Linked DNA regions of Homo sapiens: regions 2, 3, 4 and 5 are each linked to region 1. The links come from fine-mapping of genetic effects on gene expression. A gene starts in region 1. Each other region holds a variant in brackets. All regions are shown on one strand. Distances are between the middles of the regions. Region 1 holds the start of ZNF514 (zinc finger protein 514). Region 2 overlaps MAL-AS1 (MAL antisense RNA 1). Region 3 has its middle 15 kb from the start of LINC00342. Region 4 holds the start of TRIM43B (tripartite motif containing 43B). Region 5 has its middle 12 kb from the start of PROM2.

Region 1 (6,425 bases):
CGAGTTCAAGTGATTCTTCTGCCTCAGCCTCCCGAGTACCTGGGATTACAGGCGTGTGCCACCATGCCCAGCTAATTGTGTATTTTTAGTAGAGACAGGTTTTCTCCATTTTGGTCAGGTTGGTCTCCTGAGCTCAGGTGATCCGCCCACCTCGGCCTCCCAAAGTGCTGGGATTACAGGCATGAGCCACTGCGCCCGGCCAAGAAGCCAGTTTTCGTTTCTTTTTTTTTTTTTTTTTTGAGATGGAGTCTTGCTCTGTCACCCAGGCTGGAGTGCAGTGTTGCAACCTCGGCCCACTGCAGCCTCTGCCTCCCGGGTTCCAGAGATTTTCGTGCCTCAGCCTCCTAGGTAGCTGGGATTACAGGCGCACGCCACCACACGCGGCTAATTTTTGTATTTTTAGTAGAGACGGGGTTTAGTAGAGACAGGTGTGAGCCACTGCGCCCGGCCGCCAGTCTTAAAAATTTACAAACTGTATGATTCCATTTATGTGACATTCAGGAAAAGGCAAAACTATAGGGAAGGTAACAGAGCAGTGGTCACGGGTTGGGGTGGAAGAGGCATTTGACTGCAAAGGAGCAGTAAAAGGAATATTGAAGGTGATGGAGAGTGTATAGGCTGGTGAGGACTGGAGCCCCACCAACAGTGCTTTGAGATCAAATGGTGCACTAGAGCACTGAGCAGGAGAGAGAATATTCCTGGGGTAATGAATGTGCATTGTAACAAACAAGGGCCTCTGGATCAAGATCTGTCCCAAAGGACACAATGTAAGAGTGGGGAATTTCAGACACTGCAGCAGGCCTACAGAATGGGCATCAGGGAAAGGCAGTGGCCCTCAAGTTCTTCTGAAGTAGTTCCATTTCTAGTTCTGTTGAGCCATCAATGAGATGAAAATCTTTTCTCATTTGTCCATCCCCTCACCTTTTTGGTTCGGAGCACCGAAGATGGAAAAGCTCCTATATCAGCCATGGTTCCCAGACAATGTCCCCCTGCGTGGAAAAGGGCTTGCTTGCTGCGCCATCCTGGCCATCTGTGCCACTGGAAGTGCTGGCAGAAAAGTGAAACAGAGACTGCAAAAGCAGGAAAGGAGAATGGTCTCTTTGCCTTGATTTCGTGTTATTTTGTCTTTGCCTTGATTTTGTAAGTTATTTTGTCCTGAACTCCTAAATAGGGTTGATAAACCAATCTCTCTGTCCTCACAAGTGGCCCTTCTCTGGCTGAGGACTGCCTCCAGAAAACCACCGTTTTAATACTCAGACTGTGTCTTAGGCATTGGCGCTGCTATAACAGAGTGTCTTAAACTGGGGAATTTGTAAACAACACAAATTTGTTGTTCACAGTTCTGGATGCTGGGAAATGCAATATCAACGTGCCAGCCAGTTCAGGGGCTGGTGAGGGTACGTTTCTCATAGATGGCACCTTCTGTGTCCTCACATGGCAGGAGGAGCAAAGGGGGCTTAAGGCCCGTTTTTATTTTTATTTATTTATTTAATTTATTTTTTGAGACGGAGTCTTGCTCTGTCGCCCAGGCTGGAGTGCAGTGGCACGATCTTGGCTCACAACCTCTGCCTCCCGGGTTCAAGCAATTCTCCTGTCTCAGCCTCCTGAGTAGCTAGGATTACAGGCGTGCACCACCACGCCCAGCTAATTTTTAAATATATTTTTGGTAGAGACAGGGTTTCACCATGTTGGCCAGGCTGGTCTCAAACTTCTGACCTCAAGTGATCCGCCCGCCTTGGCCTCCCAAAGTGCTGGGATTACAGATGTGAGCCACCACGACCGGTCTAAGGGCTGTTTTTAAAGGGCACTAATCTCATTCATGAGGGCAGAGTCTTCCAAAGGCTCCACTTCTTAATACTATCACCTTGGGAGTTAGGTTTCAACATATGAATTTGAGGGGGACACATACATTCAGACCATAGCAGGCCGTTTTTCCATTTCTTTTGGGTCCTAAATGATATTTGTTTCTGGAGTAGGAGGGCGTTCAAAGTCCTCTTTTGTTCTTCAGCACCCTTCGCTGAATTCAGGGGCAGATGGAGAAAGGCAAGAGGCACGGGGCAGCCTGTAGAAGCAGTATCTAGCACTGAGTCCCCAGTATCCCCTAGGCACGCCAGGAGAGCCTCCTGGAAATCCTCACTCAGCAGATCCAGGGTAGGAACGCGGCTTCTGTTGAATAGCCTTACATCGAGATATGCAGGTTGGGGGCGGTGGCTCACACCTGTAATCACAGCACTTTGGGAGGCTGAGGCGGGAGGATCATCTGAGGTCAGAATTCGAGACCAGCGTGGCTAACATAGTGAAACCCCGTCTCCACTAAAAATACAACAAATTAGCTGGGCGTGGTGGCGGGAACCTGTAATCCCAGCTCCTACGGAGGCTGAGACACGAGAATTACTTGTACCCAGAAGACAGGTTGCGGTGAGCCGAGAGCGCGCCCCTGCACTCCCACCTGGGCGACAGAGTGAGGCTGTCTCCCCCCTCCCCCCAAAAAACGAGAGAGATATGAGGCTCAGCTACCAAAGTCACGCGCGAGAAGGGAAATGCTTGTAGGTCCCTGCCCTTGGGGGAGAGCGGAGTGAAAACCGGCGCGTGGCCGGCGAGCACGGCCCCTCCCAGCGGAGGTCCTACAGGCGCCCGCGAGCCCCGCCTCTCCAGCTTCGCCGCGCCAGCACCCCGCCACCGGCGCTGGCTCTGAAGGGCCCCGGCGGCGGCCGCGTCTGCGCAAGCTCGGGACGGCCTCGGGAGGCGGGGCTGGCGCGGGGCGGACGCGGGGGCTGGCGCGGGGCGGACGCGGGGGCTGGCGCGGGGCGGACGCGGGGGCTGGCGCGGGGTGGCGGGCGGGGGCTGGCGCGGGGTGGCGGGCGGGGGCTGGCGCGGGGTGGCGGGCGGGGGCTGGCGCGGGGTGGCGGGCGGGGCCTGGTCCTGTGAGCGTTCGGAGACTGCGGGCGCGCAGACCTGTACTGGGCCCGCGCCCCGGCCCCTTACAGAGCTGGGTGTGTCCCTCCGAGTGCCCCCCGCTAGGGACTGTGCAGGCCGGAGCTAGGCAGGGACAGCGGGGCGAACCGGGCTGATAGAGTCGGTCCCTGCTCCTGTGAGGCTCTCACCGAATCCCTGCTGTTTCCGGGCAGCTGAAGAGCGCTGGGCCCTCGCGTCGCGGGCGTGGCTGTGGCCGTGTCTCCTGGTAGTCTGAGCCCACTGTGCGTGTGGATCCACGTGGGAGCTGGGTTCCAGAGCCTGGTCCTGAGGAGGAGCCGAGCCGGGGGTAGGAGGCCGGACTTGGCGAGGGAAGAGCACGACCCCGGGCAGCAGTGCGCCGCGCTGGGCGCACCGGGGTTTGCCGGCCCTGCTCTGGGCCCTGCAGGTCCGCTGGCCCCGCCGCGCCTAGTGGGGATGCCCCGTGTCCCCCAGGCAGCCCCAGCCTGCGTCCCGCTCCCTGAACCCTCGGGAGGACCACAGGGCTGTGGCCGAAAGACAGAGATTTGGACCTAGTGAAAGGACGCCGCTCCTTAGCCCCAGCTATGGACTCCACAGCATCAGGTTTGGCTCTGGAGCGTGCAGAGGGCCAGGAGCCCTCTTGGGGAGCTAGTACCGAGCCCGATATCAGGAGGACCCCAGGAAGAGGCCGGGGAATCCCACTGAAGGGTGAGGCTGTACTTCATCTGCCTTCCGTGTGGCGACATCTAACCTTCCAGACCCAGAAGGCTGAAGCCGCAGTCTCCTGGGTCTGGCAGGGGTCTCTAGATGACCGTGGCGGAGGTGGAGGGGATGGCCATGGAAAATTGTCCCAATGGCCAGAGGAGAGCAGAAGAGGATCTGATCTCTTCCTGCTGCGGCAGGGAGAGGGCAAGCAAACCCAAGAGGGAGTGGCCCTTGGCCAGGGATCAGAGGACGATAGGGCCATTTGGAGCCTTGTCATCCACCTCCTTAATCACCTCACTAATAAGGTTCTTCCAGTCGTTCTAGCTCAGCGGTGTATAAGGTCAGCAGTGTACATGGTGGGTATCTCCTCTGAGCCCCTTCCCCCAATAGCGTTGGGGGCAGGGCAATCCAGGTGACCCAGGAGGTTTTAAGCCAGTCCTAAGTTTAGAACGTCCTATCTCTAACCAGGTGGGCATTTTAATCCGACTGTTCATCCTTCAGTGCACATGCTCAAGGACACATAACTGGCCAGTGGAAGAACTGGGCCCAGTCCGTGGGCTTCCCACCCCCTCTTTTTTCCTTTATACCCTTGTTAATCAGTGTGGCTCTGGGAACAGCAGAGGCATTGCCCAGAAGTTCTCTAGAATTGCAGACTCTGGGGCCCCACACATCCTCAAACAGTGTCTTAGCAAGTCTTGAGCCAGAGTTTAACAAGATCCTCAGGGATCCACACACACATGAAGCTTGAGGAATGCCTAACTGTGCTATGCTTACACCCATGTTGTTAGCCTTAACTACTTCTCTGGCATGGTTTGGGTTAGTTTTTTTGTTTGTTTTAAGGCTTTTATGAACAGTATGATGCAAAGCTTTATAATGAAGGAGCTCTCAAGTGTGTTGCAGAGACCTAACAGAGCTTGGGAACACCAGGGGCAGCTTCTCAGAAAGAGGTGGCCTCTGAGCTGGGTTCCCAAGGATGAGGGGAGAGGTGTAACTTCCTCCCCTTAAAGCCTCATAATCCTGCATGGCCTTGCCTTGGGTCTTGTGTAATTGTTAACCTGTAGGCTAGATTTAAAGTTCCTTGAAGTTCTTTTCCATATTTATATTTCCAAAAGTCCTAGGAGATGACCTGCATACAGTATGCCCAGTAAATAACTTCAGTGGTATGGCCAGACTGGTCACACTTCACTCACTTGTAGACTGATGTGGGCTGTGGACAGGTGGGAGCCTCATGCAGCTGTGTACAGGGGCACTTCTCTCAATGTTTGAAGGCTAGAAGCTGCCTCTCAGATCCTTTTGATCCACTGGTGTCCTCAGAACAACGGAGGTGACATTCAGAGCTGTTCTGGGTCTCAGGCTTGGGAAGTCTGAGAGCTGTGTGTGCTGGCTGGGTCAGCTTCCCTTATGTCTCCTTCTACCTTCCCAGCTTCCCCTTCTCAGAATCCTGCTCTTCCTCCAGAGAGATTCCCAGGAGAAGAGGGAACAACCAATTCATTCCTGAAAGCCAGGCCTCGGGTGAGTTGTATTCTTAATTTTTCCTCAAATGCCTGAACGATGGTTAGCTTTGCCTACTTTTCACCAAAAAGTAGCCTCTTTTTTCACTAAGGGAACTGACCCAATGCTGTCTCTGCAGGAGGCTGAGCCCATCCAAGTGAATGATGGCTCCCTGACCTGTCCGGGGTGTTCTCTTCTTGCTGTGCACCCACTCAGATCGTTTGGGCTTACTCTGACATATTTCTAGAAAGGGCACTGTGGTGACCACCAGGTAATGTGACAGCCCTGGCCTTGAAAGAGTGTCACAGCCACAGTGGAAGAGGACCCTGACACCCAGGACGCAGCCACCAGTAACAGGATGTGAATGGTTTGATGCCAAATGGAGTGGCACAGACAGGCCTTTCCATCGAGGTTCACGAAAAGGGGAATCGGCCTGTTCTGGAGAGGTTGGGAAAGCTCATGGAGAATTGGGGACAAGCAGGTTCTGAGGGTATGGACAGGTGGGCAGGCTATTTGAAGCTGGGTCCCTGTTCAGATGTTATCTCCCTGGATAAGGGAGGAGGCACACTTAACTTTACTACTTACAGGCTGTGTGGCCTTGGATGAGTCACCTAACCTCTCTATGCATTGGTTTGCCACCAGTAACATGTTAAGCAGGCAGCAGTAACATGAAGACTATAATAATGTTAATGATGATGAAAATAGTTATTATTTATGGAGAACAAAACCTGTATCAGGAACTATTCTCTACAATTTACACATACTAATTCATTTTGTCTCTAAAACATTCCCATAAATGGTTACCATTTTGAAGAATGGTAACCAAAGTGTGGAGAGGTTAACAGAAGAAGTCAAGGCACAGAGAGAGAAAGTAACTTGTTCATGGTTATCTAGTTAGTGAGGAAGGGACCCCAATTTTACATCCAGGCTGTCTGGCTCTGAGATCTTAACCACTCAATCATAGAGCCGCCTCATGTTGTTGTTAGAGTCCGCTGGCAGTTCCGCTGGCAGATGGTAACTGCCTAATCCTTGTTGGCATCAGGGATCATGGTGACTGGCCCTCAGGGGGGATTCAGGTTTGTCTCTAGTGAGCTGGATGTGGAGGGGTACAAATGCCAGCCTCCGGGGTTTCCCAGCATCCAGGATAGGCATGGGATTCAGGTTTGATGATAGACACTGACATTTAACTTTCAAGCCAAAAGGGGGAACCCCCCTAGTAAGGAATTTAATCAGTAAAGTCATAAATAGCAGTTAAATATTTTTGGCCCTGATGTACATCATTCAGAGGTTTATCA
Region 2 (6,425 bases), 150 kb after region 1:
TGAGGCTGCACAGCCCCACAGCAAAACGTCCCTGCGCTGAGCAGGGTTCAACCTTACAAAGAATTGAAGAGTAGATTTATATAATAATGGGATACGTGATGAATTTTGAAATTATTGCCCAGATAATGAAACTTTGGAGCAATATATAAAGATTGTGACCCCTTGGGTAGGCAGGTGTTACCTTGACTAGACTTGCCCTCTTTAAGTTATGGTTATTCTTTTTATTCTTTATTCCACTTCTTTGCCCACAGTGCTGTGGGCTTTAGGGTCACTCTGGCTTCCTCTGACCGGCCCTGGAAAGGAGGCCTCCTTCATGGCACCTTTTGTTGTCCTTGAAGAAAGTTTTTGTTACAGGAAAGGTTAACCAGAGGTTACTCTGCTTTATAGAGTTAATATCTCACTCATTAAACCCACACATTCAAAAACCCAGTTTTTACTCAGGCATTTAATTTCAGCCAGCAAATTGTAAAATTGTACGTGTATATTTTGAAAATTGTACATATTTTGTCTAACATTTTTGGCAATCATTTTAAGGACAACTTTATTTCTTAATAATTTCTTAAGGATTAAATTCCCTTAAACCTTTAGAATTGTATTTATAAATGTAATAGTTTCTGTTTTTCCTGTAAGTATTCTAATTATTAGAATTATTTAAAATATTCCTGAATATTTAAACAACTTATGAATCCAATAGATTAAATCTAGAAATATGGTGTATTTTGAGTTCTCTCAAGTCTTCTATACTGCTTATAAATTTAGGACATTTTAAGTAAAAATCACAAAGCTCAGCTGATGACATATTTTAAATTAGAAGCAAAAAAGGTGAATATTTACTCCATTAGGGCTAATTTCTTTTAAACTTGATGAAACACCTAGAATTTGTAAACTATGTGCAAACTTACATGAAATATTATTATTTTGGGTTTGGTTTATTTAATAATTCTCTACTTTATTCTAACCCTCCCTGGGCCATGGTGACTCAGAGACAGGGTCAGTGCACAGGCTGGGCCCATGGAGAGCAGGGCATCCAGAGCTTGTCAAGGGCTGCTGGCCAGAGCCTGCTCCCCTCACTGCTCTTTAAGTGACTGTAACAGAAACGGGTGGCCTTAAGCCAAGCTGAGCGGGGGTTTCATTACACCTGCCTTGTAGGGATTCTGGGATTTGTCATGGGGACACACTACAATGTGTACCTACAATAAGATGGAAAGATGTTCAATTACACTCTATACACATATACACATGAAAGGGAGGGACCCCTTTTGCTTTGCCTGTGTGCAGTAGATGCTTACACGGAGAGTTTGGTGTAGACAGACAGAGACAAGAGGCTCCGCATTTCAGGGAGGAGCAGACCTCTACAGCGACCAAGGAGGAGGGCCAGATACAACTAACTGGAAGCTGAGGAGCGGGTTCTCAACTTGACCCTCTGAGGGCACAGGAGACATTACTGAGCAGGTGCACAGCTGTGCCAGAATGAAAATGTTCTGTGACAGAGACAAGAGCGCCTGCTGAGAGCGGAGCTGTCTCCATGTGCATGACCACAGCCACAGCCCTGTGACATCAGGCATGTGACACGCTTGCTGGCTGATGAGGCCCAGAAAGGGCCTTTAGAGGTGGCTGCGAGGCAGCGCTGCAGTAGGATACCCTTATAAGGAAGCTTTTTGCCAGGACTGGGCTGGCGGCTGTCCTGGGAACCCCAATCCCACAGTGCTTCTGGCTTTCCTCACCATTAGCATCTCCTTTCCTAGCAAATATCCTGAGAGCGCTTTGAGATTGTGTTTTTCTCCTGGGGCAACCACCTGCAGAATCTCCACGGAGGGGCTGGGAAAATGCTTTGCATGATCCCTCAAAGCTCCCTTTCATCGAGGGAGGAAAGGCTGAGAGGTGGGCCTCAGAAAGAGCTTCGTGGGGGCAGGAGCCATCCTGGGGGTAGAAGAGGGGTGTAACTGGTCTAGTCCATCCGAAGTAAGGGCTTTAAGGAGCCTGCTGGGAGAGTTTAACCTGGGACCCCCGCAGCATGAGGGACATAGAGACTGGCCTCAGACCCAGGCTTGGATGATCCAGAGGGTGAAGTCAGGCTGGCAGCCTGCTCTTATGCTGGAGCCCAAGTGGGTCATGGGAAAGAAGAGCCAAAGCGTTCCCATTGACCAGAGGCCAGGTGAGAGAGTGAGGCGGCCCAAGGTGGTGGCAGCTCCTGTGGGAAGAGACCACCCCAGGGGCTGGAGGTGAGGCTGGCTGCCCAGGGGCCGAGGAAGGAGGGAGTGGCCAATCTGAACAGAGCGGCCTTCTCCTCCTTAGGGTCTGTAGCCAAAGGTGCGCCGTGCAGCACCTGGAGTGGGGGGTGGTGGGGGAAATCTCCGAAGGAGTCAGGAAAGCACCTCTGCCAGGGCCAGATCCCATCACAGGCATCAGTGGGTGAAAGCGCTCCTGCTGCTTTCCTTTCTCCCTTTCCCGTCTCCATACTGGAAGGGCTGGAAATGGCTTTGAGGAGAAGGGGTGTGAAGAAGAGTTAGGCAGCCCACTGTGCCGCCCCGCCCTGGCTGCAGCAGGCTGGAGGGGGTTTAGGGGGTGAGGAGAGAAGGGGACTCAACACTGGATCCAGTTTTTATCACCCAAGAATGAACAGATCCCCTGCTGTGCTTTCATCCAGAACAGGAACTGCCCTGGAAGTAAGTAACCAGAACAGGAACTACCCTGGAGTGAAGTAAAGGGGCGGTGGGAAATTCCCGTGCGGCTGCTGCCGATGTCCTGTGCCACCGAGGCACTGCATAGTCTGTTGGAAGGGAAAACAGAAAAGTAACTTTCAACCTTCTCCCCTCACCCCTTTGAATGCCAAGGAGAGCCCTCCTCCCAGCCCCAGAAGAAACCTCAGCTGTGTTCTTGTGCTGTGCGTCCAAGAGAAAGATGATCAGAGCCCAGCGGCTGCATGCCTAAGCTTCCATGCTCTAGTGGCCACATTAGAAAAAGTGAAATGGAACAGGTAGAATTAACTTTAATAATGTATTATGTTTAGCCCCAAGATCTCTAAAACATTATCACTTAAACATATACATTAATAGAACAATTTTTGAGATATTTTACGTTCTTTCTGTTCCAGTTCTTTGAAGTTCGATGTGTATTTTACACTCACAGCACATTGCTATTTGGACCAGTCTTGTTTTGAGGGCTCAGTTGCCACACATGGGTCTCGGGTATCCAGGAATGGTTTTGTTTTTCAAGATTAGAAAATCCAGCCCAGTCTGAAACCAAAGCTGCAATCTTTTATCCAATCCAAACACCCACCTCCCCAGCCCAGGCTTGAAAACCTTCAGTAGAAGGGGCAGCTTCTGTGTGGGGGCTTTTCTCTCTTCCTCACTTTACCTTTTCTCCTATTTAGCAACTGTGCTTTTGGCCCCACCCCCTCTCTCCACCCCTTCTCTGCCCAGGGCCAGTGGGCAGAGCAAAGGCTGAACCCTAGGTCGCTGGGGCTCTCTGAAGTTCTCTCTGCCAGGCTGTGCCCTGAGGCGCCCTCTCTCGTGCCGTGGTGCTTTTGTGCTAGGGGCCGCACCTGTGGTTCCTTG[A/G]TGGCGCCCTTCCTTTGCTGGCTGTTAGCTCTCAGCTCTGGCCTGTTGGCTGCCAACTCACCTGGGATTCCCCTGGTGGGGGACTCGCCTTGTCTGTCCAAGCCATCTAGGCCCCTTAGAGAAGCCAGTTAGTGCAGCTGACCCTGCTGCCCAGGGAAGGCCACGTGCTTCTGCCTTCACTCCCTCTTCCCCCTGTTGTAGAGGCAGCAGCTGCTGCAGGCCTCGCTCTTAGGTTTTTCCAGGCACACATCTGGTACTGGGTCCTGGTGCTCCCCACCCCACCTCCAGGGACCCAGCCAAGTTCTCAGAGCACTCTCTTGACACTCCCTGTATTTGGCTTGGGGTACCCTCCTGCCTTCCTCTCTGTCATCAGCATGGGCAATGCACTAATAAAAGTGGCAGAATGCCCCCTGGAAAGTCCTATGTGGCTGGACCTTTGTCATGGGGATCCTTTGGCATGTCCTGCTTTCCATGGAGAAGCCAAGACCCCATTTTAACCCAACACATTTACAGATACAGCCAGGAAGGACACGCCACACCAGCACCAAAATATTCACATTGACCATCATGGGGGCAGCAGAGCATTCCCAGTGATTTCTACTTTTGCTTTATGAGTCATGGAATTTTCTAAAATATTTTTGTAAATTCTATTATTTATTATTTCTATAAGGAATTTTTTTTAAAAAAGAAAAACCAATAACTCCCTAAAGTCAAATAAAATAAGAATGTGAATGTTGTCCAAAAAATATACATCAAGAAGGAAGTAAATAGCAAGTGTTTGCGTCCACGTGTCCGTGCTCACAGGTCCTGGTAAACAGGCTGTGGTGTATTTGGAGTCAGACTTCTCAAAGAGCAACTTGGTGGCCTTGCTTTTTCATTTCCCAGGCGCCTTGCTGCTGGGGTTTAGTTACATTTGGCCAGTGGTGGGCTCTGGCAGGCTGTAGGAAGGTGGGTAGAGGAAAGAAACCATTGTTCACTCTACTTCTGGTGGGGCACTGACTGCAGGAGTTTAGTGCTCCCCCACCCCCACCCCCGCGGGTCGGTGCTGTCGGCAGCAGCGCACTCCTCTGCTCAGACACCAGGACCTCTTGTCTTGTGATCCTCCAGCCCTAAGGGGTGCGCTCACTTCCTGTGGTTATTAATTCTCTGGGTTATCTCTCATCTCCTTTTGTACTCCTTGTGCCCTGGAAACTATTTGTAATCAGGCCCCTGAATTAAATCCCCTCTTTGTGAAATACCCAGCATGGTTTCTGTTTTCCAGACTGGACGCTGGCTGACTCAGGCACGCAGTTTTTGACCTCAGCCTGGCGCGACATCCTCCTCCTTGCTCTTCTCTCTGTAGCTCCCAGGTGGCTCATATGTGCCCCAGCACATATGTGCCCCAGCTCATATATGCCCCAGCTCTGTTTTCTGCCTCCCACAGAGAGCAGGTGCAGGTCATAACACGGAGCATCTGGCCTAAGGCCAGTTTGGCCAAGCCTGCGGCAGCCAGTGACCCCTCAGGCCAGGACTCCTGGTCCTAGTACCTAACGTCCTGTGCTGTGCCTGCCACTGCGGTCCCCCAGGGGACAGGGCATGCTATAGAGGCCTGCCCACTGTATGCAGCTGAGGAGCAGCCTCTTAGACCTGAGGCCTCAGGTCACAGCAACACCACAGCCTTGACTCCGGGCTGTCCACACTGGGGGACACCTTTAGGAAATTTAAACTTTTATCTTCCAGTTAAGGAAAACAGAAGCAGCGAAGAGAAGTGAACTGCCCAAGGTCACACAGTGACTGACTTGGAACAACATGGCCAGATCCCAGGTCCCTGCCTCCTGATCCAAAGCACTTTAAGAAAAAAAAAAACAACAAAAAACCAAAAATGAAACTGTTTATTTTGAGATCATTATAGATTCACAGGCAGTTGTAAGAAATAATACAGAGAGATCCTGTGTGCCCTTTGCCCTGTTCCCCTCCATAATAACAGGTTGCAAAACCATAGTACAATATCACAACAAGGACATTGATGCTGATACACTCCACCAATTTTCAGGTTTCCTCAGTGTTACTTGTATCCATTTGTGTGTGTGTGTGTGCATGTGTATTTAGTTCTGTACAGCTTTATCACCCACACAGAATAGATTTTGTATCCACTACCACACTCAAGAGGCCAAGCATCTGCTGGGCATTGTGGCAGGTGCCTGCAGTCCCAGCCACTCATGAGGCAGAGGCAGGAGGATCATTTGAGTCCAGGAATTCTGGGCTGTAGTGTGCTGTGCCAATTGGGTATCCACACTAAGTTGGGCATCAATATGGTGACCTCCTGGGAGCAGGGAAGCACTGGATTGCCTAAGGAGGGGTGAACTGGCCCAGGTCAGAGATGGAAAAGGTCAAAACTCCTGTGCTGATCAGTTATGGGATCGCGCCTGTGAATGGCCACTGCACTCCAGCCTGGGCAACCCAGCAAGACCCCATCTCTTAAAAAAATGTAAAAGTAGGAAAAGATGCATAACAGCTCCTTCCCCACAGGGATCCCTCATGCTGCCCTTTTAGGGCCACACCCACTTCTCTCCTGCTTCCAGCTAATTAAAAAAATTTTTTTTTAGAGATGGGGGTCTTCACTATGTGGCCCAAGCAGGTCTCAAACTCCTGGGCTGAAGCTATCCTCCTGCCTCAGCCTCTCAAAGTTCTGGGATTACAGGCTTGAGCCAGTGCACCTGGCCAACATTTGATTTTAATCACAAATTTAATAAAGGAAACATCTTCCAACATTCTAAACTGGCTTTAAAAATTTAATATACTCATTTTCTTTTTTAATTATGTCAATGGTCTGATAGTAAATTGGTTTTGAGTCTTTTAAATGAGTCTTTTTTTTTTTTTTTTGAGACA
Region 3 (6,425 bases), 680 kb before region 1:
TATATTTGTGGAAATGTTTTTATTTCTTCTATGTTATCCAAATTGTTGGCATACAAATGTTCATTATATGAACAATTGTAATCCTTTGTATTTTAGAGTTAAGTTGTATTTTCTCCTATTTCATTTCTGATCTTATTTGTTGGAATAGTCCTTTTTCTAGTTAGTCTAGATACGGATTGGTTGATTTTGTTTATCGCCTTAAAAAGAAGTTCAGTATTAATTCTTTCCATTGGGTTTCTCATATCTATTTTATTTATTTCCACTTTAATCTTTGCTATTTTCTTATTTCTGCTAATTCTTGGCTTTGTTTCTCATCTAGTTCATTGAGGTATAATGATTTATTTAACTACATTCTATAAGTTTTGGTATGTTGTGTTTTCATTTTTGTGTGTCTTAAAATACGTTTTTTAATTTTTTCTGTAACTCATGGGCCATTTATTAATATGTTAAATTTTGCCATTTTATGTATTTTTCAAGATTTCTTGTGTTACTGATTTCTAGCTTTATGCCATTGGGATGCAAAAATTTTCTTTCTATAATTCAATTCTCTAATATTTGTTAAGATCTGTTTTGTGGCCTAACATATGATATATACTGGAGAATGTTCCACTCACATTTCAGAAGAACAGGTACACTTCTGCTGTTGGATAGGATGTTCTGGGTATATCTGTTAGATCCAGTTGCTCCAAAGTATAATTCAAATCTAATGTTTCTTAATTTATTATCTTTCTAAATGATCTTTCCATGGTTGAAATTGGGGTATTGAGGTCTCCTACTATTATAGTATTGCAGTATATTTTTCTCATGAGATTATTTAATAATTGCTTTATGAATTTAGGTCTTGTGACCTTGAGTGCATATATATTTACAAGTATTATGTCTTCGTGATGAATTAACTCCTTTATCATTATGCAGTGAACCGTATCTCTTTTATAGGTTTTGACTTAGTTTATTTCTTTTAATAATAAGTATAGCTCCCCTGCTCTATTTTAGTTTGCATTTGCATGGAATATCTTTTTTCATCTTTTCAGTTTCAGCCTATATATGTCTTGACTGGTAAAGTGAGTCTCTTGTAGGCAGCACATGATTGAATCTTGTTTTTTATTCTATCCATTGAGATGCTCTATGTCCTTTTATTTGACAATGTAATGCACTTACTATCAAGGTAATTATTTATAGGGAAGGACTTGCTACTGCCACTTTGTAATTTTTTTTCTGATTGTTTTATGAGTTCTTTGTTCCCTTTTTCTCTCTTGCTGAACTATTTTATAGCTTGATGGCTTTCTGTGGTGGTATGCTTTAAAATTTTGGATAAATTGCAAAATAAACTTTTTTATTTTGTGCAGTTATGATAGGTTTTGTTTTGTGGTTATCATGAAACTTACCTAAAATATCATATTCTTATAACAAACTACTCTAACAACTTCTGATAGCAACTTCTCTTTAATTGCATCCAAAAGTCTACATTTTCATTCTCTCTCCCATACAATTGTACAATTTTGTCAAAACTTACCCTTTTATTTCATATTTATATACCTTAACAATTTATTGTAGCTACAGTTATTTTCAGTACCTTTGTCTGCTAACCCTACTAGTAGGGATAAAATTGCTTTACAAACCACCCTTAGAATATTACAGCATTTTAAGCATGACTGTGTATTACTGATAGCATTGAAGCTTTTTACTTTTATATGTTTTTTTCTTACTATTTAGGCTTTTATTTCAATGTAAGGCTCTTCCTTTAGTAATTCTGATCAAACAGGGATATTGATTATAAACTTTATTAGTTTTTTTTTGTATAGAAAGGTTTTTATATCTCCCTCTCCCTCATTTCTACAGGACAGCTTTGCTAGGCACAGAATTTTTTTTTTTTCAAGATGGAGTCTTGCTCTGTCACCCAGGTTGGAGTGCAGTGGTGTGATCTCACCTCCCAGGTTCAAGCTTGCTCACTGCAATCTCCGCCTGCCAGGTTCAAGCAATTCTCCTGCCTCAGCCTCCCAAGTAGTTGGGATTACAGGCCCATGCCACCATGCCCAGCTAATTTTTGTAGTTTTAGTAGAGATGGGGTTTCATCATGTTGGCCAGGCTGGTCTTGAACTCCTGGCCTCCTGATCCACCTGCCTCGGCCTCCCAAAGTGCTGGGATTACAGGTATGAGCCACTTCACCCGGCCGGGAACAGTATTGTTGATTGGCATTTTTGTTTGTTTGCTTGCTTGTCTGCTTTAGCATTTTGAATACATCATCCCTCTCTCTTGTGGACTGTAGGGTTTTCTGCAGAGAAATCCACTGAAAGCCATATTGAAGCTCCCTTGAATGTGATGTATTTCTTGTTTTTTTGCTGTTTTCAGTATTCTTTGTTTTTCATTTTTAATAACTTCATTGTGATGTGTGTTGATAAATGCCTCTTGGATTGAAATGGATTCATGACCTCTGCAGTTTTCATACCTCAGTGTTGTCATCATTCTTCATGTTTGGGAAATTTTTAGTCATTATTTCATTAAATATGCTTTCTAGGCCTTTTTCTTTTTCTTCTCCTTCAGAAACTGATATTATATGAAAGTTGGGTTGTTTGATTGAGTCCCATAATTGCCATATGCATTTGTTATTCTTTTTTGTTGTTGTTTTTCCCCTGATGGAATCATTTCAAATGTTTTTTCTGTAAGCTCACTGATTCTTTTTTTCTGCTAATAAAATCAGCTGCTGAAGCATTGTATTAAATTTTTAGTTTGTTGTATTCTCTATATCTAGAATTTCTATTTGTTTTTTGTTATCATATCTATTTCTACTTCAGAACTATCATTCTGTTAATGAATTTTTTCCCAAATTTATTTTAGTATGTTATCCATATTTTCTTGTACAGGCATACTTCAGGGATATTGCAGGTGTGGTTCCAGGCAACCACAATGTAACAAGAACTTGAATTTTTGGTTTTACACTGCATATAAAAGTTTTTTATACTATACCATAGTCTATAAAATGTGCAATAGCCTTATGTCTACAATTACATACTTTAAAAACTACTTTATTGCTAAAAATGCAAATGATCATCTGAGCCTTCAGTGAATTTTAATTTTTGCTGATAAAGAGTCTTTCCTCTGTGTTGATGGCTGCTGAATGATTAAGGTGGTGGTTGCTGCATGATTAAGGTGGTGGTTGCTGCAGATTGAGGTGGTTGTGGCAATTTCTTAAAATAAAACAAGAGTAAAGTTTGCTGCATCAGTTGACTCCTTGATTCCTTTGATGAAAGGTTTATCTGTAGTGTGCCATGCTGTTGGATAGCATTTTACTTCACAGTAGAACACCTTTCAAAATGAGTCGATCCTATCTAATGCTGCCACCGCTTTATCAACTCAGTTTGTATAATAAGATAGGTGTTTTTTTTTTTTGTCATTTCAACAGTGTCTTCACAAGGAATAGATTCCATCTCAGATGGATGGGGCTATAAGAAACAACTTTTAGTACATTCAAGTTTGATCATGAAACTGCAGAAATTCAGTCACAGGCTCAGGCTCCAATTTTACTTAGTTCTCTCGCTAGTTCCACCACACTCACAGTTACTTCCTCCACTGAAGTCTTGAAACCCTCCAAGCTATCTATGAGGGCTGAAATCAACTTCTTCCAAACTTCATATTTTGACCTCCTCCAAGGAATCACAAATATCTTTAATTTCATCTAGAATAGTGATTGCTTTCTAAAAAAATCCAAATGATTTTTAATTTGCCTTGTGCAGATACGCAGAAGAATCATTGTCTATGGCAGCTATAGGCTTACAAAATGTATTCTTAAATAATAAAATGTCCTTGATCCATGGGCTTCAGAATGAATGCTGTGTTAGCAGGCATGAAAACAATATTAATCTATTTGTACAACTCCATCAGAGCTCTTGGGTTATGAGTGCATTGTCAATGAGCAGTAATATTTTAAAAGATATATATATATATA[C/TAC]ATATATATATACACATATATATATACATACACACACACACATACACGTATACACACACACAAACACACACACATGTTTTCTGGACAATAGGTCTCAACAGTGTGCTTAAGATATTTGGTAAACCATACTGTAAACAGATGTGTTTTCATCCAGGCTTTGTTGTTTCATTTATAGAGTATAGGTAGCATAGGTTTAGAAGAACTTAAAAATGTAGCAGAATGGTAAATGAGTACTTCCTTTAATGTTTTAATGTAACCAGCTGCATTAGCCAGTACATAGAAAGTCAGCCTGTCCTCTGAAGATTAGAAGCCAGGCATTGACTTCTCCTCTATAGCTGTGAAAGTTTTAGGTATCCTCTTCTTCCAGTATAATGCTGTTTTGTCTACATTGAAAATCTGTTATTTAGCATAACTGCCCTTATCAATGATCTTAGCTAGATCTTCTGGATAACTTGATGCAGCTTCTCTATCAGCACTGGCTGCTTCACCTTGCACTTTTATGTTATGAAGATTCTTTTCTTAAACCTCATGAACCAACCTCTGCTAGTTTAAACTTGTCTTCTGCAGCCTCCTCACCTGTCTCAGACTTCATAGAATTAAAGAATGTTAGGGCTTAGCTCTGGATTCAGCTTTGGCTTAATGAAATGTTGTGGCTCATTTGATTTTCTATCCAGACCACTAAAACTTTCTTCATATCAGCAGTAATACCATTGTACTTATCATTTCTGCATTCATTGGAGTAGCCTGTTTAATTTCCTTTAAGAACTTTTTTTTTTTGCATTCACAGCTTAGTTTACTGTTTAATGCAAGTTGCCTAGCTTTCAGCCTATCTGAGCTTTCAACATGCTTTTCTCACTCTATTAATCATTTCTAGCTTTGTATTTAAATACTGGCATCATGGGGGCTAATGTGGCTTACAAAGTATAATTCATCTGGCAGATGGAACCATAGTTTGACACTACCAGTCTTACGTCAGTTTCAACCCAGTAATAAATCCAAGCCTACCCATTCTTCCCGGAAGGAGCTTGATTATGCATCAAATTCCACAACCTCTGTAGTTAGTGCCCAAGGAACTGTTTTCTTAACAACTTTGCTCTGTGAATCGACAGGATTTTTTATTTTTGAGTGTATTTAGACCATAGAAAACAAAGAAGTAAGCATACAATGGGCCCACATTCAGAAGCTATCTCCTCAGGATCAGAGGCTGCATCCAGAGTGTGCATAGGTGTGTTTGTCACAGATCCTCTACCAAGCTTAATGGAGAGAGAGTGGGAGATAAATGTCCATACTAATCTTCATCATGTAGCTAGAAAGAACTGAAACACTCCTCCAGCCTTCTAACTTTTTAGCTACATCTGGATTGTCTGGCTCCTACCTTAACCAATTTCTGGTTACTGACAAGGCGTGGCACATCCTAAGTTCCAGGGAGCCAACAAAAACAGTCAACACTAGAGCACACAAGGATTTGAGAGGTACCTGAAGATCTCTGGCTGGAAAGTTTGGTGAGATCCTTTTCCTACATGAGGCCAGTCTTATCAAATGCACAGGAGCCAACAGAGAGAGTCGAGGAAAAATGAAGAAACAGGGAAACATATTCAAAGTAAGAAAACAAGATAAATCTCCAGCACCTGAGTGAAGTGCAGATATGTAATTTATCTGACAGAGATTTCCAAATAATGGTCATAACAATAATCACTGAGGTCAAGATAGCTTTGCAAGAACAAGCTGAGAACTTCAAGAAAAGGAAAAACATTACACAATAATGTCAAACAAATCATAGATCTAAAGTGTACTGTAACTGAACTGAAAAAATTTAATAGAGGTGTCCATTAATAGAATCTATAAGTGAACTTTAAGACTGGTCACTGGAAATTATCTAACCTGAGGATCAGAAAAAAAGATAATGCAAACAGAGTGAAGACAACTTTAGACAGTTATGGGACACCATCGAGCAGGACCACTCACGCATTATTGGCATGCCTGAAGGAGAAGTGAGGAAGAAAGGAACAGAAAAATGTTTAAAGGATTAATGACAGAGAATTTATCAAGCATGGGGAAGAAAGCAGAAAGCCTGATCCAGAAAGCCCAAACGAAACCAAATAAGGTGAATCCAGGGACTCACAACAAGATACACTACAATCAAATTGTCCAAAGTTAAAGAGAAAAAGAGAGTGATATTGTTTGCAAATTTGTACCCTCCAAATATTGTGTCGAGATTTGATCCCCAATGTTGGAGGTGGGACCTAGTGGGAGGTGTTTGGGTCATGGTGGTTGATCTCTCCTGGATAGCTTTTTGCCCTCTTTTCACTAATGAGTGGGTTCTCACTGCATTACATGAAAGATGGTTGTTTAAAACAGTGTGGCACCTCTCCCCTCTCTTCCTACCTCTCTAGCCATGTGTGACATACCTCTTGTCTCTTCACCTTTAGCCACAAGTAAAAGCCTTCTGGGTCCCTGACCAGAAGCTGCGCAGATGCCACTG
Region 4 (6,425 bases), 320 kb before region 1:
CTCCTCCTTCTAAGAGGGAGGAACTTTTCCAAATAGTAATAACATAGGTGAAATGTAATTCTTATCCTAACCATGATCAAGCAAGCTTTTTTGGAATCTTTGAGTGGATGTAATTTTATATTCCCCTTTATCAAACACTGACCACAGGGAATATTCCCCTCTAATAAGCTTCTTTTGTAGCTTTTTTCTGAAAAACTGGACAAATGTAATGTGGGAGTCAGACAGCATGTGTCACTAAGCTGAGAGCAGTGACATATGCAGGTGACATTTGCATGTCCTGGCAGCATTGTCCAGCAAAGTCTTCCTTTCTTTGGGGATGGACCCTCCCTCCTCACCTGGAGCAGCTCCACGTCAGGCATGTGGCACGTCTCCCACAGCTCTCTGTACATGTCTTTCATCCTTTCTAAATGTTGGGTCATTCTCACTTGACTGTCTTGTAGTTGTTGGAAAAGCCCTTTTGCTTCTCTGTCCAGTGCCTGCAGATGAAGTTGCTTCTCCTCATCGAGAAATAGACGCATCTTTTGATATTGAATATTGATTATCACCTTACTTAATGACACATAGTTCTGCGGAGACATTTGGTTAAAAGGATTACATACTCTCACTCTCAACAGAAAACTTCAAATAATTATATGCTGGGTGTAATCAAGCAATCTATAAACTTTCTGCCTCACTCTTGCAAGGAGTCTTGAATATTTGTTATTTCTTTCTGTCCATCTTTTTCAATGTTCCTATTCTCTCTCCCTCTTTAAATCAAAACCTATATAAAGACTTCTAGTTTCTCTTCCTGAGATGCTTATTCACAGTTCTTACTGAGTCAATTATCTACTCTATTAATCTCCCTTTTAGGATTTTTCCATGTCTGATTCACCTAAATGTTAAAACACATTTAGCCATACACTATATTATGCAGATTGATTTTTCCTTTTACTATATTTTTACTCTATATACTATTTTATATACTATTCTATTTCTTTCCTCTTCCTCACACCCAATCTTGGTGAAATGTCTCATCTCCAGTGTCTGAAAAGGTTTATACCAACCTTCAAATTTGAACTAGAATACATATCACGCCATTTATCCAATAAACTAGAATTAATTTGGTTAGCTTGTGTGGGCTTCTCTATTTGCAATTCCTATTATATCAATTATATCAAACCCCCTCTCTACTAAAAATGCAAGAAAAAAACTAGCCAGCGACAGAGCCAGACTCCTTTCAAAAAAAATAAATAAATAAAGATAAAACTTCTGTTCTGAAGAAACTTAATCATCTATGTTAACACCCACCTACGCCCTGTGAAATGCAATCAATTGGAAGAAAGGGGTGTGGTCTTCAGAGATTTATAAACCGACACTTCAGGAGCCAAGCTCATTCTTCTCCAGAGCCCACAGAGTAGCTTTGCAACTGGCTTTGGGGACTTCCGAAAGCTACCAGCACTGCACTGTGAGACTCTCATCCCTGAGCTGAATCCATCTGATTCGACAGCAAGCTTTGGTGAGAACATAGATATATTTCTGAGGTAAGTACACAATTTCCAGAGAAGGATCTACTATTAGGTTACAAACCAAAACAAAATTTGGGGACTTTAATTTATCTGCAAACTTAGATTATTTTTAGATGGAATGATCTCATTTTCCGAGTTTTAAAAAGGCTCCATTTCTTTTTTAAAATTATTTTAAACATAATCCATAGGTTTATGGATTAAACATGGGCCACCATGTTCAGCTATTTATTTATTTGTTTATTTATTTATTTTGAGATGGAATCACGCTCTATTGCCAGGCTGGAGTGCGGCGGCGCTCTTGGCTCACTGCAACCTCCGCCTTCCAGGTTCAAACGATTCTTCAGCCTCCGCCTCCAGAGTAGCTGGAAATATAGCCGCCTGCCACCACGCCCATCTAAATTTTGTATTTTTTTTAGTAGAGACGGGGTTTCATTATGTTGGCCAGGATGGTCTCCATCTCTTGATCTTGTGATCCGTTCACCTCGGCCTCTGAAAGTGTTGGGATTACAGGCCTGAGCCACCGCGCCCGGCCTTTTTTTTTTTTTTTTTTTTAAATTTATATAAGTATTTTTAGAGACAGGATGATCTAGACATTTTACCGTGTCACCAGTCTAGAGTTCCTGAGCTCAAAATACCTGCCTGACTTGGCCTCCCAAAATGCTGGGATTACAGGCTTGAGTCACCTTCCCTGGCTTGGTTTTAATTTTTATTTGTATTTTAGCAAAACATACATTTAAAACGCTGACTTAACTGTCTAGTGCCTCGTTTTTGTTTTTGTTTTTGTTTTGGGGGGGAGACAGAGTCTTGCTCTGTTACCCAGACTGGAGTGCTGTGGCACTATCTCGGCTCACTGCAAGCTCCGCCTCCCGGGTTCACGCCATTCTCCAGGCCCCGCCTCCAGAGTAGCTGGGACTACAGGCGTCCTCCACCACTCCCGGCTAATTTTTTGTATTTTTTAGTAGAGTTAGGGATTCACCATGTTAGCCAGGATGGTCTTGATCTCGTGACATCGTGATCTGCCAGCCTCAGCCACCTCGGCCTCCCAAAGTGCTCGGATTACAGGCGTCAGCCACCGTGCCCGGCCTCTAGTGCCTGTTATTGCATGATACTTACTCTTTTCCTGACTGTGTGAAAGAGTAATGATAATGCTTCAATTATCATTATCTTTTTGTAAATTGAATTAATTGTCT[GTCTT/T]TTAAAGATGTTGTAATATTAACCAGTATATCCCCAAATTAACAGACTGTCCAGGAACAGGAAACATGCCAGAAAGTTTTTGTTGATTAAATTAACATAGCAGCCTAGAAAAACAATGATTCTTAGCTTTACCTTGGAGAGGTAACTTACCTTGATTTGACTGTTTTTCCTTGGAGAGTAAAGGCTGGCTTTTTCTGATTTGGGTCAAAGTATGAGTTCTGCTCTAACATTTTCAAGCAATGTCCTTCTGGAAAAGTCATTATGGATGGTTGTTATAGTTAAATAAAATAATGAGAGTAGAAGAGCTTAGTTAGCTTTCCTTCTCTAAACCAATCACTGGCAATGAAGACTGTTACTGATTTTCAGACCGTTCAAGACTCAAACTTTGAGTTTACAGGTTGATGAAACCCTTGAAGCCCAAGCAATTTGGTGGATACTAACACCTCAAAAAATCCGACATTCTTCCATGCAAGAAAGTAGAGTTTGGAAAGCTGGTCATGTGTTGATTGGAGAACAGTCACTTTTTATAGAGATTGATGTCTCTTTGTGCCTTAGTTTTCTATTTTTCCTATTTCTGTCATTGCAAATTAAAACCTATACTTCTTTAGAAAGAAAGGATATTATTCGATCACGATCTGATTCAAACTTTGCTTGGATCTTTGTCTCTCCAGGGTAGAAGATTAAATTCCTGTGGTTTTCTTTCCTTAGGAAAATGGACTCAGACTTCTCACATGCCTTCCAGAAGGAACTCACCTGTGTCATCTGTTTGAACTACCTGGTAGACCCTGTCACCATCTGCTGTGGGCACAGCTTCTGTAGGCCCTGTCTCTGCCTTTCGTGGGAGGAAGCCCAAAGTCCTGCAAACTGCCCTGCATGCAGGGAACCATCACCGAAAATGGACTTCAAAACCAATATTCTTCTGAAGAATTTAGTGACCATTGCCAGAAAAGCCAGTCTCTGGCAATTCCTGAGCTCTGAGAAACAAATATGTGGGACCCATAGGCAAACAAAGAAGATGTTCTGTGACATGGACAAGAGTCTCCTCTGCTTGCTGTGCTCCAACTCTCAGGAGCACGGGGCTCACAAACACTATCCCATCGAAGAGGCAGCTGAGGAAGACCGGGTAAGAGATAGCTCTGTGATCACCTGAAAGCTGGAGGGTGGCAGAGTTAAAGAGATTAGAAGGATGATGAGAATCACGGTGATTACTCCATTCTTTACTGAGTGCCAGGTGCTGTTCTAGGTACCAATGATGACATTTTGAATAAAATGTGCAACTCTACCTTCCTTCATGGAGCTTGCACCCAAAAAGAGACTGATTAAGTAAATGTCATTATTATTGACTCTACAGTTCAATGCTAATGACATTGAAAAGCTACCAAAACTACCAGTGCAAAGAAAGGTATTTTGGAAATATATTTAATATTACTGGACAAATGAGTATGGGAGTAGCACACTACAAAATCAGGGGCTAGCATAGTGGGTTCTGAAGCAGGATGTTTCCCTGAACTAATTTAGCTGGGTTACAGGAAATCTTCACTCTTCAGTTCCCTAAACTGTTCTACATTCTGAAACCTCAAACTGAAAAATATCAATTAAGGATGAGCAATGAAAAATTTTGTTTTTTTCTCCTCTCACTAATGTATTTATATATTAGATCCCTTGCCTGCTTATACCACTCAGATGGTGGAATCTTTGGTATTTGACTTTCTGTTCAACCTTTAATTCTTTTGCAGGAGAAACTCTTAAAGCAAATGAGGATTTTATGGAAAAAGATTCAAGAAAATCAGAGAAATCTATATGAGGAGAGAAGAACAGCCTTCCTCTTGAGGGTAAGTATGAGACCGTGAGTCCTCCTGACCAGCTTGAGACAGGCATGCTGACAACATTTATATTAGCAACTTGAGTTGAAATTCTCATATGCCAGATTTTGTCATGTGTTTATTCATAGGCTGGAAAACAACCAGACTGTTCAACATAACGATTGTTCAGGTTTTCTGTAAATGCTTTTCAGATAAGTAAAAAATAAATATAAATTCTGAAGGGCAAGTATGTGCTTAAAATTAATAAGTATTTCAGACAGTTTTCTGTATAAAATGAATTATGAAATATTGATTAAATAGTATATAATTGAGAAATAAAGGCATTTATTGGTGAATATGGTATTGTCCGGGGGAAGAAATCGGGTGGGAACAGTAATTTAAGAAATGTGCCTGTGCTGGTGAAATCTGGTAGCAAAGGACCCACATGATGCCAGTCCGAGTAGGAGAAAATGCAACATGAGGAAAAGCTGAGGAGAAGGGATAAAAAATGACTGGGGCAGTGAGAGGATAAATATGTCATTATTGAGAGGAGAAACACAATGGAATGGGGATTAATGTTCTTAGAATGGCAGTGCAATACAGAGTCTATGGATTTGACAGAAGAAAGATAGGAGACAGAAAAGAGGTAGTCGGTTTGAGAGATGGGGGTTAAATTTTTTACTAAGATCCTTTTTGTGTGATGGCTTCTGATCCTGATTATAATATACTAAAAACATTTCTACTAAGAGTGATTGTTCAGGCTGTGAAGTACAGAGATTTGAAACAACAACCTAAGTGAATAACAAAGATTATGTGTATTATCCATGACAATGTAACAATCAATCATAAATTTTAGTTGTTTTCTAATTGTATTTCCGATTTGATTTAAACATTTAAACCTAAAGGGCTTTTTTGCAGGTGTTTGGGAATTGATGAATTACATAAATTTTGAAGGAAGGTCTTGCTTAACTCATCATCCTGTTTGTAAAGGATGGAAAATAAAAGAAGGAATGAGGAGGATGAAGTTGTGGGCTCTGTGAGGTGGAAGTAGGCCTGGGTATATAACCTACAAAATTCATATCCCTACAGGGCGATGTGGTTTTACGGGCACAGATGATCAGGAATGAGTATAGGAAGCTGCATCCGGTTCTCCATAAGGAAGAAAAACAACATTTAGAGAGACTGAACAAGGAATACCAAGAGATTTTTCAGCAACTCCAGAGAAGTTGGGTCAAAATGGATCAAAAGAGTAAACACTTGAAAGAAATGTATCAGGAACTAATGGAAATGTGTCATAAACCAGAGGTGGAGCTGCTCCAGGTAAGAATGGAGGATGCCCCTTGAGACACTTTGTGTTAGCTGACCTTTACATCTTTGCCTTCCATTGGGTACCAAAGACATTATTTCCTCATCTCCTGCACTGACGGTGAGAGTCATTCCCACCGGTTATAGAGATAAACTATAACTCCTACGCTAATCATGGAAATAAAGCTTTATGGAATTGTGCAACTAGATTTCCATACAACATTTTCTACCACAAGCTTCCTCCTCCAGCACATTTCATTAAAACTCTGGAAGAAAAAATTTCATGCTTGATTTGAGCCACATTACACTTTGGGGACTAGCCCTGAAAAAGACCACATTGTAGACAGCTGCAGCAATGCGCAGTCACTACTCACACCTTTCTCTCTCACTCAAATTTAGGGTCCTTAATTTATCAGAAATCCATATTGTCAATAGGTCTTACTGGTATAATTGTTAGAGATGAGAATACATTTTAAAAGAGTGGCAGTAATAGTATACGGTAATTCTAAAGTTTTGAAAACCTAAAGACCAGATAGGCAGAATAGCAACTTTTTTGTGTGTTTATTTTGAGACAGAGTCTTCTTCTGTCACCCAGACTGAAGTCCAATGGCCCAATCTC
Region 5 (6,425 bases), 100 kb before region 1:
AGGGACATAGATCCAAACCAAACCACAGGGTAAATGGAGTGGTGTCCCCAAAGGCAGATCACAGTGAAATGCCTCCAAATGTAGAGGAGAGTGGAGCCGTGCCTTCCACATGCAGGGGACAAGGGGCAGGCCCATGGAAGCGCACAGTGGAGTGAGGCAGTTCCACCGAAGGCAGAGGACAGGGCAGCTGTGCCTTCCAAATGCACTGGGCAGGGAAGCAGTGACTCCAGATGAAAGTGAGAGAGCAGCAGAGACAGCCAAGTGCAAGGGGCATGGGAGCCCTGCCTCCCAATACAACAGTGTGGGTTGTGAGCCTTCCCACATACAGAGCAAAGAGGGAATGCTGTCTCTTTAAATACATAAGACTGCCAAGCAGTCCCAGGTCAGTGAAGATGACAGGGGAGCATTGACTCCAAAGGGAAGCAGTAGTTGTGGAGCAGTGCCTCAGCCTGCAAAGGGCAGGGAGGCAGTGGCTCTGCAGCAGAAGACAGGGTTTGTGCCTGCAGATGAAGATGATGGTAAAGAAGAGAGCAGCAGAACAGTGTCCCCCAAACACACAAGCAGAGCAGTGCCTTCCACATCCACAGAAGAATGGAAAAAGGGCTTCCCACTGCAGAAAACACTGGAATGTTTCCTTCCAAATGCAGAGAATGTTGGAGCCGTGCCTCCAGCTGGAGTACAGTGAGCAGTAACATCCAAATGCCGAGTACAGCAGAACAGTGCCCCCAAATGCAGAGACGGCAGAGCAGTGCCTTCCTAATATGTCAGACGGTGCATAAGCGACTTCCCAGTGCAGAAGACAGTGCAGCAGCGCTTCCAAATGCAGAACAGTGTGGATCAAGGGCCTCCAAATGCACAGGCCACATGATCTTCCCTCAGACTGTTATAACCAGCCAAATTACCATTTCAGTGGCATAAAGATGGCAATATTAGACCTAAAGAACCTAAAACATTAATATATCCTGCATTCTTTTTTGTAGAACTTCCTAGAGGATGTATTCCTCAAAAATGGTGGCACAAGCCAAGAATAAGAAAGATACAGGAATCAGGAAACAGTGAATCAATGCCAAAAGAGAGGCAGAGACACCTCAGGATGACAACCACCTGTTTACGTAACTTGGAGACCACCCAGACCAGATTAGAGTGGGAGAGGAGCAGTGTGTGTGTGTGTGTGTGTGTGTGTGGATGGAAGGGAAAGAGGGATACCTGGGGATAGGGATTCTAGAATAAAGGAAAACTCTGTAGAAGGTGCCTGATGGAGTATTGGAAATAAAGATATGTGTCTAGTAAATTATGCAAGTTACCAAACAGGGAAATTTTATAACATGGACTAAGAAAAGAGATGCAATCATAGTACACCTGCAAGAGTTAGGCCAACACTGGAGGTGGAATTCATTCATATTATAGCAATTGTGGCCGGGTGCGGTGGCTCACACCTGTAACACACCCTAGCACTTTGGGAGGCCGAGGCGGGCAGATCACCTGAGGTCAGGTGTTGGAGACCAACCTGACCAATGTGGGGAAATCCCACCTCTAGTAAAAATACAAAAATTAGCTGGGTGTGGTGGTGCATGCCTGTATTCCCAGCTACTCAGGAGGTTGAGGCACAATAATCGCTTGAACCTGGGAGGCAGAGGTTGCGGTGAGCCAAGATGGCACCACTACACCCCAGCCTGGGCAACAGAGCGAGACTTTCTCAAAAAAAAAAAAAAAAAAAAAAAAAAAACCAAAGAAACAAAAAATAAAAACAAACATATTAAAGCAATTGTAGTGTGATGAAAAAGGATGAAGGAGCTACATTTGATTCTCTCATAATAGAAAGTTAATACGCAATGTCTGTGTTCACAAATCTAGATACAGCAACATTTTTTAGAGATATGGAGGTAATATCAGAAAAAATAATTAAGAGAAGAAAGTTGGATTGCAGGCAGCAAGGGCAGGGCAGGGTTTTGCTGATTTTGCAGTATAGTTCTTTTTGTACTGTTTTATTTTTTACCAAATGTATGTGTTATTTTGCCAAAAATTTAATATTTTATGTGAAAGTGATCAGGTTTCTGTATTCATTTTCTATTATTTCTGAAAGAAATCCCCACAAGCTTAGTGGCTTCAAGCCATGCAAATGTATGATCTAATTGTTCTGTAGGTAGGAAGTTGGGTAGCTCGGCTGGTTCCTCTGCTCTGAGTCTCACAAGACTAAAATCAAGGTGTGGGTTGATGGCTTGGGCTCTGATCTGGAGGCTCTGTGGTAGAATCTAGGCTGTTGGAAGTATCCAGGTCCTTGTAGCTGTAGGACTGAGGCCCCTGTTTCCTTGCTGGCTGTTAGCCATGGGTGCATCCAATCCTCCTCACCTTTGGAATCTCTCTGACTCCTGAATCTGCCATATTCTCTCATCTTTTCTGCCTTATCTCTCTGACTGACTCATCTGCTTCCTAATCTGTATTTAATGACTCACACTGGAACCAATTACATATTTCAGGATGATCCCCTACCTTAAAGTCTGCTGGTTAGTAACCATAATTACATCTGCAAAGTCGTGTCACAGCCATACCTTGAATGACATTTGATTGAATAGCCAAGGGACAGGAGTCCTCCAGGGACATCTTTAGAATTCTGCCTATAATAGGTTTGTTGATTATAAAGCTCCTTATTGTCTTTATTTGCTACTATAACTTCTGAGTCTCCCAGAAGGGGGATTTCTGTGTCAAGTATCTCTTGGATTAGGTTCAGTTGAATACGTCAGAAAACTCCAAATAACAGTGGGGAAACCTAAGCCGAAATATATTTCCTCTCACATAAAATGAGACTGGAGGTTGAAAATCTAGGGCTGTCCCGGCAGCACCATAAATGTCAACAACCCCTGCTCCTTCTCTCTTTCTACTCTATCATCCTAAGGCAGTCTCTAACCTTGTGGTTACTTCAAGGAACAAAATGGCTGCAGAAGGTCTAGTCATCCCTTCCACATCCCAGGCTCAGAGATGGCTGAGAGGAGGTGTATCCCTCCTGGTCTCAACTTCCTTTAAACAGCCTTCCCAGAGGTCATCCCCAGACCTTGAACTCACATCTTATTAGTCAGAACTTGGTCATAAGGCCACACATAGCTACAGGTAGGGTGGGAAACATGAACTTTCGGCCGGGCACTCTGCTGCCTGGAATAAAGACACAGCTCTGTGGCTCAGGGAGAAGGGAGTGTAGACACTGTGTGGATGAAGCCTTCAATGCCATCCTCTGTGTCTCGAGGTTATCTGACTGTAGATGCATTTTGTTCTGAGTGTACCAAGCAAATTCTCCCTGTCAGAGCACAGCTCAGAAAGTGTGGCTGTTCTC[C/T]CTCACTTCTCCCTCACTTGCATTCTTGCTGCCTAATACATTTAAGTTTTACTCTCCTAGTCCCCAATTAGTAAAAGTATTTTAGAAGCAAATGACATAGTACTGAAGAAAATAAAAATACATATCCATAAGTTGTGTTGTATTAAAATAGGATCCTGTACTTGTCAAGCGTAAACGAAATAATTCATGTCTTCTCTTTTCCCTTTCATTCTTGTTTTACTCTGCTGGTACTTAAATACGTTAGAGCGTGCACTGACTGGCACCACACCTCCATGTAGCTCTGAAGGAGAAGGGGAGCCCCCAATGCCTGCACGGGGCCCATTCCTACCAGCCTTGGCCCTGGAACTTGATGCATGACCAGTCGCAAATGAGGAACTCCCGGGACTTCTGCCTGGAGGTCCCCAGGCCCTCTCCTTTCATATTCAACTAGATGGCTCAGCCCATCCCACAGCATCCCTCCCACCTCCTTGCAAGGCAACTTCCTCTATCGAAGACCTCAGCACAGTAGAGGATTCTGTAGTGTCCCTTTGCTCACTTTGCTACTGGTCACAACCTGGAATCTGGGAGCCAGTCCCTGTCCTTTGTCCTTGAATCTCCACTAAAAGAATTGTGGAGGCCAGTCGTGGTGGCTCACGCCTGTAATCCCAGCACTTTGGGAGGCTGAGGCAGGCAAATCACCTGAGGTCAGGAGTTCGAGACCAACCTGGTCAACATGGTGAAACCCCGTCTCTACTAAAACTATAAAAATTAGTTGGGCATGGTGGCGGGTGCCTGTAATCCCAGCTACTCAAGAGGCTGAGGCAGGAGAATCACTTGAACCCAGGGGGCGAAGGTTGCAGTGGGCTGAGATAACCCCATTGCACTGCAGCCTGGGCAAAAAGAGCAAAACCGTGTCTCAAAAAAAAAAAAAAAGAATTGTGTAAGGGTCTTTGACAAATGGTTGGAGGTAAGGAAGGTAAGTGCCACAGAGGAAGGAATGTCAGTCATCACGTTCCTCCTGATGCCCTCACAGGTGTCCGTGGTGGGGAATCTCTCTGGGCTCTGCCTGCCTGCAGGGCCTCCCTCTTCTGGGTTGTCATGAGTCTCCTCCTGTCTCAGATCCTGGCACTGAAAACTCAAACTTGTAGCCTGATGATAACATCATATGGGGTTCTGTCTGGGGCTGGAATGTGAGCCCTCTCCATGTACACAACCCTTTGCAGGTCACTGTTGGAGGGATGCCTAGAGGACACTGCACACTAAGAGAGAACCACCTGGGCTGCAGGCCGCCCTCACCTTCTCATTTGGGATTCATGAGCCACTGAGGACTCCAGTCTTCCATGTGCCAAAGCGGGGTTTGGCCTTGCTGACCTCTGAGATTGACCCCCGGCTTCACCAATCAGCTGCTGGTGATCCCACCTCCCATCATGCAGGAAGCAGGCACTTCCTGAGCAGCATTCTTGCAGATGAGGCAGGGCCCAAGACAGCAGAGGCAGAGGCAGCAGTTTGCCTGGGCCCAGGGAGACAGAAATGGGCCCTTTACTCTTGCAGTCAGTCTTCTTGTCCCCAGAGGGAGAGAGGATGAGAACCCAGGAGACTGGCTTTGTTGTCAAGGTTTCCATGGAGACTGGCAATGTCCTAGGGGGACCTGTGGTGTAAATTACAACCTGGTGAAGTAGGCTGCTCTAGGATGTCCAGGAATGCACTTTGGTGAGGGAGGCAGTGCCCCCAAATGAAGATTGGGCCTTTGATAAGAAGGGGAGACAAAGAAGGAATTATGAGTGTCAGCAGAATGGAGCCCAGGAGGAAGAGCTGAGGGGGATGGCTGGCATTCAGGATCTAGGCTAGATCAGGGAGAAGGCGGGTAACACGGAGGCCAGACACTGTTTCAAAGTCAGTGTGAAGCAAGGAGGTGGCAAACCCAGGAAGGGACAGAAGGTCAGCAAAAAAGGGTGGGTGTGTGTTTGGCGCCCAGGAGGAACTAGATGAGCTGGTGAGTACAGATGCAGAAATGAAGTGTGGCATGTGAGCACATGTTGCAACAGGCAGCAGGCTGCTGGGAGAAGCACCAGAAGCATAAAGCAGAAACTCAGACATGGGCCAGCTGGAAAAAGGAGCCTTGGTTCTGTGATATGTTGGGAGCCACGCAGCAGCCGGACCTGGGTGTGAATCTTGGAGACAGAAGCTTCCCAGGGCACCTCCAGGATCCAGGTTTCACCTAACCAAAGCTCTGACAAGAAGCCCCAGGGTTAAGTGCGGCTCCTCCCTGGTGGTGTCAGGCTCCCCAGGAGCACTCCTGTGGGAATAATAGCCTTTGCTTCAGGTGGGGTGGGGAACAGCTGGAATCCCCTCCTAGGACTCTCTCTCCAGGAAAATCACTGTGATTCAGCAGTGCTGCTCCTCTACAGAGAAGCCCAGCACCTCTGCACTTAAAAATTAGTCAAAGGCAGCAGACTGCCTGTCCTGGAGCCCAGGGCTCAGGTTTAGCCTATATTATCATGAAGAATAGATCACAAGTGAAGCCATCGGATCATAACACTCGCCTCCCACTGGTGCCCCTACAATCAAGTTCTGTCCCAATGTTTGTTGGCCACCACAGCCAAGACAATGCTCCATGTTCACTTTCCTCTCCCAGATGCTGGGGAAGATTGCATATTCCAGGCTCCATTGTAGTTGGCTCAGGGACATGTGGCTAATTCTGATGAGCAGGCTGTAAGTTAAAATCAAGTGGGTTACTTCTTGGCTGAAGCACAGCAAAGTAGGTGTGAGGTCACCTGGCTTTCTTCTCCATGGGGGAGACCCTGAAGCAGCATGCTGAGATGGTGATGTAATAAGATGGTGGTGCCTCCATCTGCCTGGATCTCTGGGGTCTTGTCAGAGCCGCCAAACTCAAGCCTCCAATCTCCCCCAAATACACACATACACACTCCAATCCCAGTGAAGAGTGGCAGAACATTCAACCCCAAAATAGGCCACTTTGACATAAGGATTACCTCAAGCTAAGGCAACTTGAAAACAGCAGATGCAACGAGGGCACTCTGATCTTCCTTCTTTCCCGGAAAACAGGAGACAAAAACTCCCACGTGAAAGGTGCCCTCCTTTCTCCAGAAGAAAGGAACAT

The links. PIP is the estimated chance that this variant, and not a neighbour inherited with it, causes the effect.
Region 2: its variant is fine-mapped to the expression of ZNF514 in lymphoblastoid cells (TwinsUK, PIP 0.95).
Region 3: its variant is fine-mapped to the expression of ZNF514 in T cells (GENCORD, PIP 0.95).
Region 4: its variant is fine-mapped to the expression of ZNF514 in unexposed skin (GTEx, PIP 0.91).
Region 5: its variant is fine-mapped to the expression of ZNF514 in whole blood (TOPMed, PIP 0.95).

Annotation. Positions count from the first base shown.
Region 1 is chr2:95,156,077-95,162,501 of GRCh38, reverse strand. ZNF514 (zinc finger protein 514) reads left to right here and starts at 2,654. Exons shown (of 5, transcript NM_032788.3): 1 at 2,654-3,262; 2 at 5,063-5,151. RefSeq lists a silencer at 2,578-2,827.
Region 2 is chr2:95,003,135-95,009,559 of GRCh38, reverse strand. It overlaps MAL-AS1 (MAL antisense RNA 1), which reads left to right. Exons shown (of 8, transcript XR_007087136.1): 7 at 1-2,977. It also overlaps the pseudogene RN7SL575P. Among named protein-coding and RNA genes, the nearest start is that of MAL, 19 kb to the left of the region's middle. The variant A/G (reference allele first, on the strand shown) is at 3,558.
Region 3 is chr2:95,838,448-95,844,872 of GRCh38, reverse strand. No RefSeq gene overlaps it. Among named protein-coding and RNA genes, the nearest start is that of LINC00342, 15 kb to the right of the region's middle. The variant C/TAC (reference allele first, on the strand shown) is at 3,944.
Region 4 is chr2:95,479,701-95,486,125 of GRCh38, reverse strand. It overlaps TRIM43B (tripartite motif containing 43B), which reads left to right and starts at 1,372. Exons shown (of 7, transcript NM_001164464.2): 1 at 1,372-1,520; 2 at 3,408-3,822; 3 at 4,436-4,531; 4 at 5,591-5,821. The coding sequence starts at 3,412. The variant GTCTT/T (reference allele first, on the strand shown) is at 2,696.
Region 5 is chr2:95,259,109-95,265,533 of GRCh38, reverse strand. It overlaps a transcript of ZNF892 not described here. Among named protein-coding and RNA genes, the nearest start is that of PROM2, 12 kb to the left of the region's middle. RefSeq lists a silencer at 386-570. The variant C/T (reference allele first, on the strand shown) is at 3,326.